Linked DNA regions of Homo sapiens: region 1 is linked to region 2. Evidence: fine-mapped expression QTL. A gene starts in region 2. The other region holds a variant in brackets. All regions are shown on one strand. Distances are between the middles of the regions.

Region 1 (4,388 bases), 38 kb before region 2:
TGCTATATCAGGGGTTTTGCCTCCCCTGCAAGCTCCTTTATCCAGTCCTTTCCTTCCTGAGCTTTCAGGCCCTGGATGGCATACCTATGGATCAAAGCCAGGTGGGGCAGGGAGAACCCCCAGACCCTTTCACGAGGGACCCTTTCTCCTCCAGTGTCTTCAGTGAGAACTTCCCTCTGGGCCAGCCTGCCCATGCACGCTGTGGAAAGGGAGAGAAGGCCCTGCCTCATTTGGAAATCCTGAGTTTGCAATGTGCTGGTTTACTTGCAATTCTCATGTTCAGAGAATGGGCCCCTTCCTTGGCTAACTTCACACCTGAGAACATGTCGGGGCATCCCTGCGGACCCAGTGTCTGCTTCACATTTCAAAGGCTGGGAACTGTTAAGCTTGTATTTTGATTAAAATTTTGTATTAGCGCCCCCCCCCTTCAATGTAATTTCAGGATATTTAATTTCAACCAATCATCTGAAGGAAAGTGGGGGGAGGAGGTATCTGATGTGAAACAGCACACGGGGAAAGCCAGCCAAGTTAGAAAATAGAGCAGCTCGGGGCTGTGTCGATGTGACAACTGAAGTCTCTTTTGTTCTCTCAGGCAGGGTCTGAAACCAAAGCCCCTCAAGGACAGGAGATCTACCTCTGGGCTTGGAATCAAGAGGACCAGTCGTTCCGGGAGGCCTCCCTGCTACCTTTGGGGCCTTTGGCAAGTCCCTGAAAGTTTCCAGGTTTCAGCCACCTATTTGGGCTCTGGGGAGAGGAATGCCTACCATTTGCCTCTGGCTCTGGGATTTTAAAAGGAAAAGCAGCAGAGTCTTTGGAAAAACCAATCTCTGAAGACCCAGGGTGAACATTAGTTACAACACCCTAGCTTCGAGGTGATGTAAACTTCAGGTACGGAGGTTACGCTCAGAGGAATAAAGGAGCATTCGTCAAACATGAGCTCCCCTCGATTGTGGTCTAGGGTGGAGACCAGTTATTCAAGTGTCTGTGGGCCCAGGCAGGTAATGAAAATGTAGTTATGGGGGAACGCCCGGCTCAGAACAGGCGTAGAGTAAATAGTTGTTGTTGACTGACTGAAGGAATAAAAGTGGGTCTGATATAAGACAATAGGGAATGGTACAAACCTTGTCAAACTGGAAGGTACATGACTTGAATTTGATGTTCAAACTATTGCTTTTTAAAACACTAGTTTAAACATCTTCTGGCCCTAGAGCTACCAATTTGTATCTCTGTATCCACTTTTATATATTTTAGGCCCATTTAAAAGACCAGGAAAGGAGGAAAATAAATCTAGCAGTATAGGACGTTCTTAATCTTGTCAGTTAACCCTAATTTTAACACCCCATCTCTGTTTGTCATTCTACTTAACCACTTTGGATTAAGCAAATTCAGTCACTTTGGAAATAGTACGTGTGGATGGTACCTTACAGGATGAAGGACCATAACAATATTCTCTAGCGCAGGCCTCTACCTCCACAGGGGGACAGACTGATGAGCCAGATCAACTCCTGCATCCTCTTCCTCAAGGAAAGCCCCCATCAATAAAACCACAAGGTTACAGTGGAGCCAGAGGGAGAGCTGGCCTGAGTTGAGACCTCCTCATGGAACTCATGGCTTCAGTTTCCTAAAATGGGGATTGTACTCCCCTAGCTCTCCTTGCTTCACAGAGCTGTTTGTGACAACTCATGAGTAATGTTATGTGAAAGGGCTTCACACACTGCAGTGTGCTGAATAAATGTAAAGAGTCCATGCTATCCAATTTGGAGACAGAAATTAGAGGACTCCTCCTCACACTAGTTAAGTACATCTCTTAAATTGCTTGGACTGTTGGCGTGGTTCTCGCCAGAGTTGAATATAATTCCTCTGTTGATGGGTCAGCCTTTATTTCCCCCAGTGCTGTTTCTTACTTGAGTTAATGAGTCCAAAGCTCATGTTTGCATGCTACCTCTGACCCTCACTAAGTGCTCACCTGCAGCTCTGCCCTGTCCTCAGAATGATGTGACCCTCAGGGCCAAACACTCCACAGGCTGCACTCTGCCACCTCCAAATCCCCACCAGTGGGTCCAATTCTCAGTCATCTGCTTGTTGTATTTCTGTTGTTTCTGTATTCATGTCAAGGATATTTGGCTGCAGAATTCCTGCAATATATTTTAGGTGAATGTGCAGCATGATCTTATTCTGGAGTCCAGGAGACTCCACCTAGGATTGCTCACAAGTAGGTCAAGTGGAGGGGGTGGCTAAGGCCAGTTTT[T/TCTGCCATGACAAGAA]CTGCTTGCTATGCTGGTGCAGGCAGAGGCTTTAGAGTTATGTTTCCAATAAAAGGCATAGATTTTCACTGCCTGATGATCAAAGTCAAACTCCTAAGCCTGGAATTTGAGGCTCTCAAAATCTGGCAATATCATTTTTTCCTTCTTCTCTTCTAGTTTCTTCTGTGCACCACAGGCCTCATGCACCAGGGTGCACCCCCTTCCATGTACATATTCCACATTTTCACACATCAAGCATGCATATGTACAATTTATACATACAGTTTCCTCTGATTCTTTTTTGTCCTTAAATGTCTGCCTGCTATCATCATGACCATTTTTAGGGAGAAATGCTTACCCGTACCTCCTATTTCCACAGAGAGGAGAGGCAAAGTCGAGAGTTTCACCACTCTCTTTAGGAGGAGAAAAGATGGAGGAACATTCCCAGCCCCTGACTCCATCTTTGACTCGCTCTTCCTAGGAGAAGAGGAGTAACTGGGATCAGAACCTGAGCATACCCAGCTCAGCTCCACCATCCCTCCGTCTTCAGGGCTCCTCCTGCCTGCAGATCAAGGGCTTCTTGCCTGGCTCCCACTTACTTTCTCCCTGTGGTTGCCGTCTAGAGGCAGTCATGAAGCCCCGTGCTCAGGGCAAGTCCCTCCACGGGGGCAGGACTGGCATGAAGGAGTAATGCCCTCTGTAGTGGGAAGGGTGAGAACGTCTGCCTGGGACTGGCCCTGCCCTCATAAGGGTTTATACTGCAAAGGCAGGGGAAAGAGGCCTGTTCTCCAATCCAGAGTTACCAACTGATAGTTTGAGTTTCTTCCTTCTGGCCCTAGTGCCCATACTGAATTGACTCTGAATCCTCAGAGGAAGAGAGAAATTATTTATGTCCTAAAACCTCAACAGCTAAATGTCACATCTTCAAAGACGTTTCAGACCTTCCTTGTCAGGTGTGATCATTCCTTCTCTTTTTCCTCTTCGCGTGTTTCCTGTAGAACTCCAGTTGTGCTTCATTTGCTCATTCTTTAGTTCGACACATATTTACAGGTGAAGACCTGGGATTTCCTTGCATTTAGGATGTGACGAAAAATCACATTTTTTAAGTTGCGTTTTTTTCAGAAAATCCAAGTCTTCACATTAGTATGGTATAATTAGAACAGAATTGGACAGAAGGCTTGGATTTAGGTCTCAGATTGAGACCTGCAAGATACTGAGAGCTTCTGAGATTACAGGAATGCTGCTAGGTGCTTTTTGATACAGAATCTTGAAATTGTTGGTTTCCTACATTATTTTCTTTTTGGAATGAAGACCACTAAAACTCTAAGACAAAGTGAACAAATGATAGCAAAAATAACAGTAAGGAAACCATGATCAGCTCGGGGTCATGTCACCAATAGTTGGCTGGGTCAGGGGTCAGACCCAAGACTCTTGACTCTGAATCCTCTATTCATTCTTTCTGCCTTCTCTCACACTCTCTGTGACTCTTGCAGTCCCTCTGCAGAGATAAGAGTAACCCATGAAACAGATCTGTAGCAACATAAGGCAATAAATGATAAATGCCAAAATAATTCCTCCTGGCTATGAGTAAACTAAGGATTCCATGAAGGGCGAATCCCCATGGCCGTGGAGATTCATGGCAGCCTTCCTGGAAAAGGCAGGATTGAATTGAACCCTGGCAGGAGAATTCTTGGGTAGGGATAGAGGACTGGGAAGAACATTCTAGGCAGAGGATCTCATAGAAACAAAGGAGCACAGGCCAGATAGAGCAAGAGAAATCCAGGACACAATGAATTTACCAGCCTGGCCTGACCCAAGGTTGGTATCTGGATAAGGATAACATGGGAGGTAAGGCTAGAAAAGACGATTAGGTCTTTACTTGAGAGGATAGTGGTTTTCAATTTAGGAAGAACCACAGTCTCACCATTTTGAAAATGCCTATACCAGTCCCCAGACCTGCTGAATCAGACAGGATTTGGGGGAATGAGTTGGAACAATTATTATTTTTCAGTCCTCTATATGTGATTCTAATGCTCAGTGAAGGCCGAAAATCACCAAGAAAGGAAGAAAGCCCATCAAGCATACACAGAGCCCTATATTTCCATCCAGTCGTCCTAGGGTTCCTCTCTGGCTTTCCATCTGTAACACTGAGTTGGGGCAA
Region 2 (4,354 bases):
CTCCTGCACATGTAAATTGTATTCAGTAAAAGGCTAATCAAAGACCCAAAAGAATGCAACCTTTTGTCTCCCATCTACCTATGACCTGGAAGCCCCCACTTCGAGTTGTCCCACTTTTCCAGGAGAACCAATGTATACCTTACATATGTGATTGATGTCTCATGTCTCCCTAAAATGTATAAAACCAAGCTGTGCCCCGACCACCTTGGGCACATGTCCTCAGGACCGCCTGAGGTTCTGCCACGGGTGCATCCTTAACCTTGGCAAAATAAACTTTCTAAATAAATGAACTGGGAAATATTTCTGGCCTAAGGGCATCATGAAAAAATTACTGAGAAAATTTGGGAACCTCTTCTCTAGACTCAAGAGACTCTACGTCATATAGGCACCTTTCTTGTCCCAGCTAATTTTAAATTTCACTCTTCTGAACAAATGCCCTCTGAATGCCAGTTATCCCTGCAAGAAACTCTTCTACCTCAATCTCAACGGAGAACATCCACTTATGTGGAATTACTTACCATTTGCACAAAGAAATCCTCACACCTCACTGCCAGGCAGCAGGAGGAAAGAACAAGGGTTAAAAGCAAGTGTTCTGGAGACAGACCACAAGCAAGTTTCTTAGCCTTCCTATGCCTCAGTTTCCTCGCGTTGTAAAACAGGGATGATAATAATGCCTACTCCACAGGGTTACTGTGTAGCTTCAATGACAGTTATAGGCAAGGACACTTCATTTTCATTTAAGACAAAAAGGAAAATCTGAAATGCTTGGCACAGCTCCTGGCATACAGATCTTCAATAATGCTGGGTGTTATTTTTATTCCTGTCTCTGTATGGAGCATGACCACTGGGTTCCAAAATGTATTCTACTTGGAAATCAGGCCACAGTCCCGTTAAGGATGGTGCTGAGTTTACTGGTGGCAGCGAGCTCCTTACCCCAGCAGAAAAGGGGCAGAGGCCGGGGGAAGGAGAACTTTTTTTAAAGGACTGATATGAGGTCCTTAGCTAGCAACTTCCCCCAGTGCTCAGGGGTTCTGAAGACACAGCTTGGTGCAAATTCACTTCTGACACAGGAAAAACAATTCAGAGGCCATGGATCTACTTCGGGGCGGTCCTCACGTAACGAAATGAAACGTTCAGAAACTGGTTTATTTATTTTTCTCTTGGGCCCATTTCTTTTTCGACATCCTTAGAGGACAGAAGGCAGCCCTCCCAGTTAGTTTCTCTTTCCCTCTCAACCCTGCAGCTTCCCGGCCGCCTCAAAGTGGCTTTTTGGACTCCTCTCAGCCTCAGCGGTTCCCAAGGTGACACCCTGAACCCCAGGGCGGTCCCTCGCGGCTCAGCCCCAGCCCGCAGTCCCCTCCCACACCGTGCCCAGGCCCTCCCCACCAGCCCGGCCCCCCGAGGCCCACACCTGGAGCATTTCCTGGCAGAAGGCGCGCACCGAGCGCAGCGAGGCGAGGTCCAGCTCCCGGACTATGAGCTCGCCCACCCCGCTGACGCCAGGCTCTGGGCCGCACTCCGCGGCCTGGCGGAGCTCGCGGCGGAGCTGACCCGCCGCCTCCTCGGCGCGCGCGCGGTCCCGGCAGCCCATGATCACCCGCGCTCCCAGGCGCAGTAGCTCGGCGGCCGTGGCGCGGCCCAGGCCGCTGTTCGCCCCGGTGATCAGCACAGTCTTCCCGTGCATGAGGCCGGGGTCCCCGCCTCTGCGCAGCCGCTGGACCCTGGGCCCCACGAACCGGCGGGCCGCCAGCCACAGCGCCCCGCCCAGAGCGGCCAGTACTGCCGCCGCAGTGGCCACTGCCATCGTCAGGCCCGAGGGCCCACCGGCCCCTCCACGGGAGTTCCGCAGCCGCCGCCTTACCGGAACCCAAGAGACCACCTGTACGCGGAGAACGCTGGGGCGCGGCGGGTCGGCCCCTGACGGTGCGCGTGGGGCATGCTGGGACTTGTAGTTTCCCTCTGGGGGGGTCGCCTGATTGGTTGTGAGAGTTCAGCGCCCTGGGTCCTGCGCCCTCCGTGGAAGCTCCTCCCAGCCTAATGATGGAGGCTGGGCAACCAGCACAGTGTTCAGGGTGCTGGGGTTCATACGTATTGAAATCCCAGAGTAGTGGCGGACTTCCCCATGGGAATGTCTGATGAGTACTTTGAATCACAGATCTCTGTACAGGCCCTGTTACAAATGCCACTCCTCAGGGCATTTCGTGTGTTTTCCTTTGAGGGCTCTTGGGACTTGTAAATTCAGTTCAATTCACCTTCTGAGGAATGGGCCCTGACAAGCTGAAGTCTGAGGTAGGACTGTTTTTCATAGATGAGACAAAGAATTAAGCAACATGAATCAGTTGGAAATAGAATGGTCGAGTAGTTCTCAAACTTAAATGCACATCAGAATCACCTGGAGGACTTGGGGTGGGGGTTCGGGGTGGGGGAATGAAACAAAACGAAAACAAAAAACCAGGGCCCCAGTATTAGAGTTTCTAATTCAATAGGTACAGGATGGGGCCTGATAATTTGCACTTTTAACAAGTTTCCAGGTGCTGCTGCTGCTGCAGATCTGGGAACCACACTTTGAGAACCACTGAACAAGACATTATGTCATTGGTCCCTATTAAAAAAAAGAAAGCCATCTTCAAATGATCTTCACACTGGCAGAGGTACAGTGGGAAAAGCTTGGACTTATTGTAAATATAGGCTTCTGAGCAGGCCATTTACAAATGCCTCCCTGCCCTCTCCATAGGACTATTACACACAACGATGGAAGGCAAAGTGCTTGGCTCACTGTAAAATGCCTCATTAATATCAGGGTTAGTGTCACAGGGACCCTTCTTCAAGCTACAAACTTCATAGCTGTAGACCAAGCTACTTTTAAAGACTCATTCGTTCGTCTGCCTCTCCATCCAATATGTGCCTGGCCCTGCCTGTTCCCTGTTAGAGCCACAGAGAAATGGGACACCATTTCTGCTCTCAGGGTGCTTACTTTCTGGAACTGTGATCTCCCACTTCCCACCCTCCACCCATTGCAGGTTCTCCAGACAAGGAAAAAGAACCACAGCTTGTGTCGTTTGAGACAAACTCCCCAATAATTGTGATAATCCATCTTCCACTCCCTTACATTTGGGAAGGATGTAACATGCAACTAATAGTCAGAATACAAAGAAAAAGGGATGGATTCCAGGAGGTTTCTTATGAGTAATGAGAATGGAGCTCAGAGGTGGGAAAGAGCACTCTTACTGGGGATTATACAAGGCACCAGGAACAGGAATCATGAGAGGTGGTCCTACACCACCCTATCCCCAATTTGAAGCTGCTACTCAAACTCATTGATCCCCCAGCATATGTTTCCACTTTATTGTCCTTTCTACCCATCCACATCTTGCCCATCCATCAAAATCACAGGCTACCTCAAGTCTTTCTTTCCTGACCACTTCCAGCCTATAAAGATCTCTGCTCCCTTCATGTGTGACCCTCAGGGTCATGTGTGACCCTCACTGGCACTGAAGACAAACAGCCTTCTAGTATTGGCTGTTTGAGTTTGCACATTTGACTTCCTTGACCAGATTGTTAAGGTTTCAAGTTTCCTAGAGGATAGGATTGTGTCTGCGTACCTCTTGTGGTCTTTGCATGGGAGGACACCTACAAAATGGTAGGTACTCAGTGTCACATGTCACAACTGATATATTTTGGACTGGTTTACATAAAATTAGGGAGCATCAGAAGATGTGTTTCAGCTGTGGTCTTCTCTCATCTAGAGCCAGGGGTGGAATACATATGTACAGGTGGAGTAGAGATGAAGGTGGAGGTAGAGAGAGCAGGAGAGGGTAGGAGGAAAAGAGGAGGGAGGAATCCTTAGACCTGCAGTGTAACTGCTGTGTAGTTTATGCATGGAACTTAATGAAATGATTAATCTGTACCAGATGGGTCCAAAGGCCATGAAATTAATAACTCTATTTGGAAGGGAGGAAAGAGACCTCATTATAACTTATGAAGTAAGATTTGAATTTGAATCTAATTAGTCTTAACACTTATTAGCTCCATATCCTTAAACAAGCTGTCTAATCTTTTTGAATCTTAGGCTCCTCATTGATAAAAAGGAAGGTAATAATAATACTATGTCACAAACATTTAATTTGATAAGAAAATGAAGTAACATGTGAAAATAACCAGGTCACTGTGCCTAACATATGATATATTTAATGACCAACCAATTTTTGTTGAAAACAAAACAAAAATCATGAGAGAATGACAATGAAGGGCCAGGATACTACACTTCATGTCACTTTTTGAAGTGGTAGCGTAGGGTCTTTTTTTTTTTTTTCCATACAAATATGGATGTGCCAGCCTGCCAGGCCCAAAGCCG

Alleles and levels. Alleles are on the strand shown, and positions count from the first base shown. SD is a standard deviation of normalised expression in the study named.
As copies of T replace TCTGCCATGACAAGAA in region 1, the expression in sun-exposed skin of the gene that starts at base 1,885 in region 2 goes down (small effect, 0.28 SD a copy in GTEx).

The links. PIP is the estimated chance that this variant, and not a neighbour inherited with it, causes the effect.
Region 1: its variant is fine-mapped to the expression of RDH14 in sun-exposed skin (GTEx, PIP 0.90).

What each region holds. Positions count from the first base shown.
Region 1 is chr2:18,520,750-18,525,137 of GRCh38, forward strand. It overlaps LOC105373454 (a long non-coding RNA gene), which reads left to right. Exons shown (of 8, transcript XR_001739302.1): 8 at 593-4,388. Among named protein-coding and RNA genes, the nearest start is that of RDH14, 38 kb to the right of the region's middle. The variant T/TCTGCCATGACAAGAA (reference allele first, on the strand shown) is at 2,249.
Region 2 is chr2:18,558,769-18,563,122 of GRCh38, forward strand. RDH14 (retinol dehydrogenase 14) reads right to left here and starts at 1,885. Exons shown (of 2, transcript NM_020905.4): 1 at 1,412-1,885. The coding sequence starts at 1,804. All of the region lies in intron 10 of NT5C1B-RDH14 (NT5C1B-RDH14 readthrough), which reads right to left. NT5C1B (5'-nucleotidase, cytosolic IB) reads right to left here. Exons shown (of 9, transcript NM_033253.4): 9 at 4,103-4,354. It overlaps LOC105373456 (a long non-coding RNA gene), which reads left to right and starts at 1,408. Exons shown (of 6, transcript XR_007086234.1): 1 at 1,408-1,923. RefSeq lists enhancers at 1,045-1,094, 1,905-1,954, 2,015-2,064, 2,075-2,294 and a silencer at 1,305-1,814.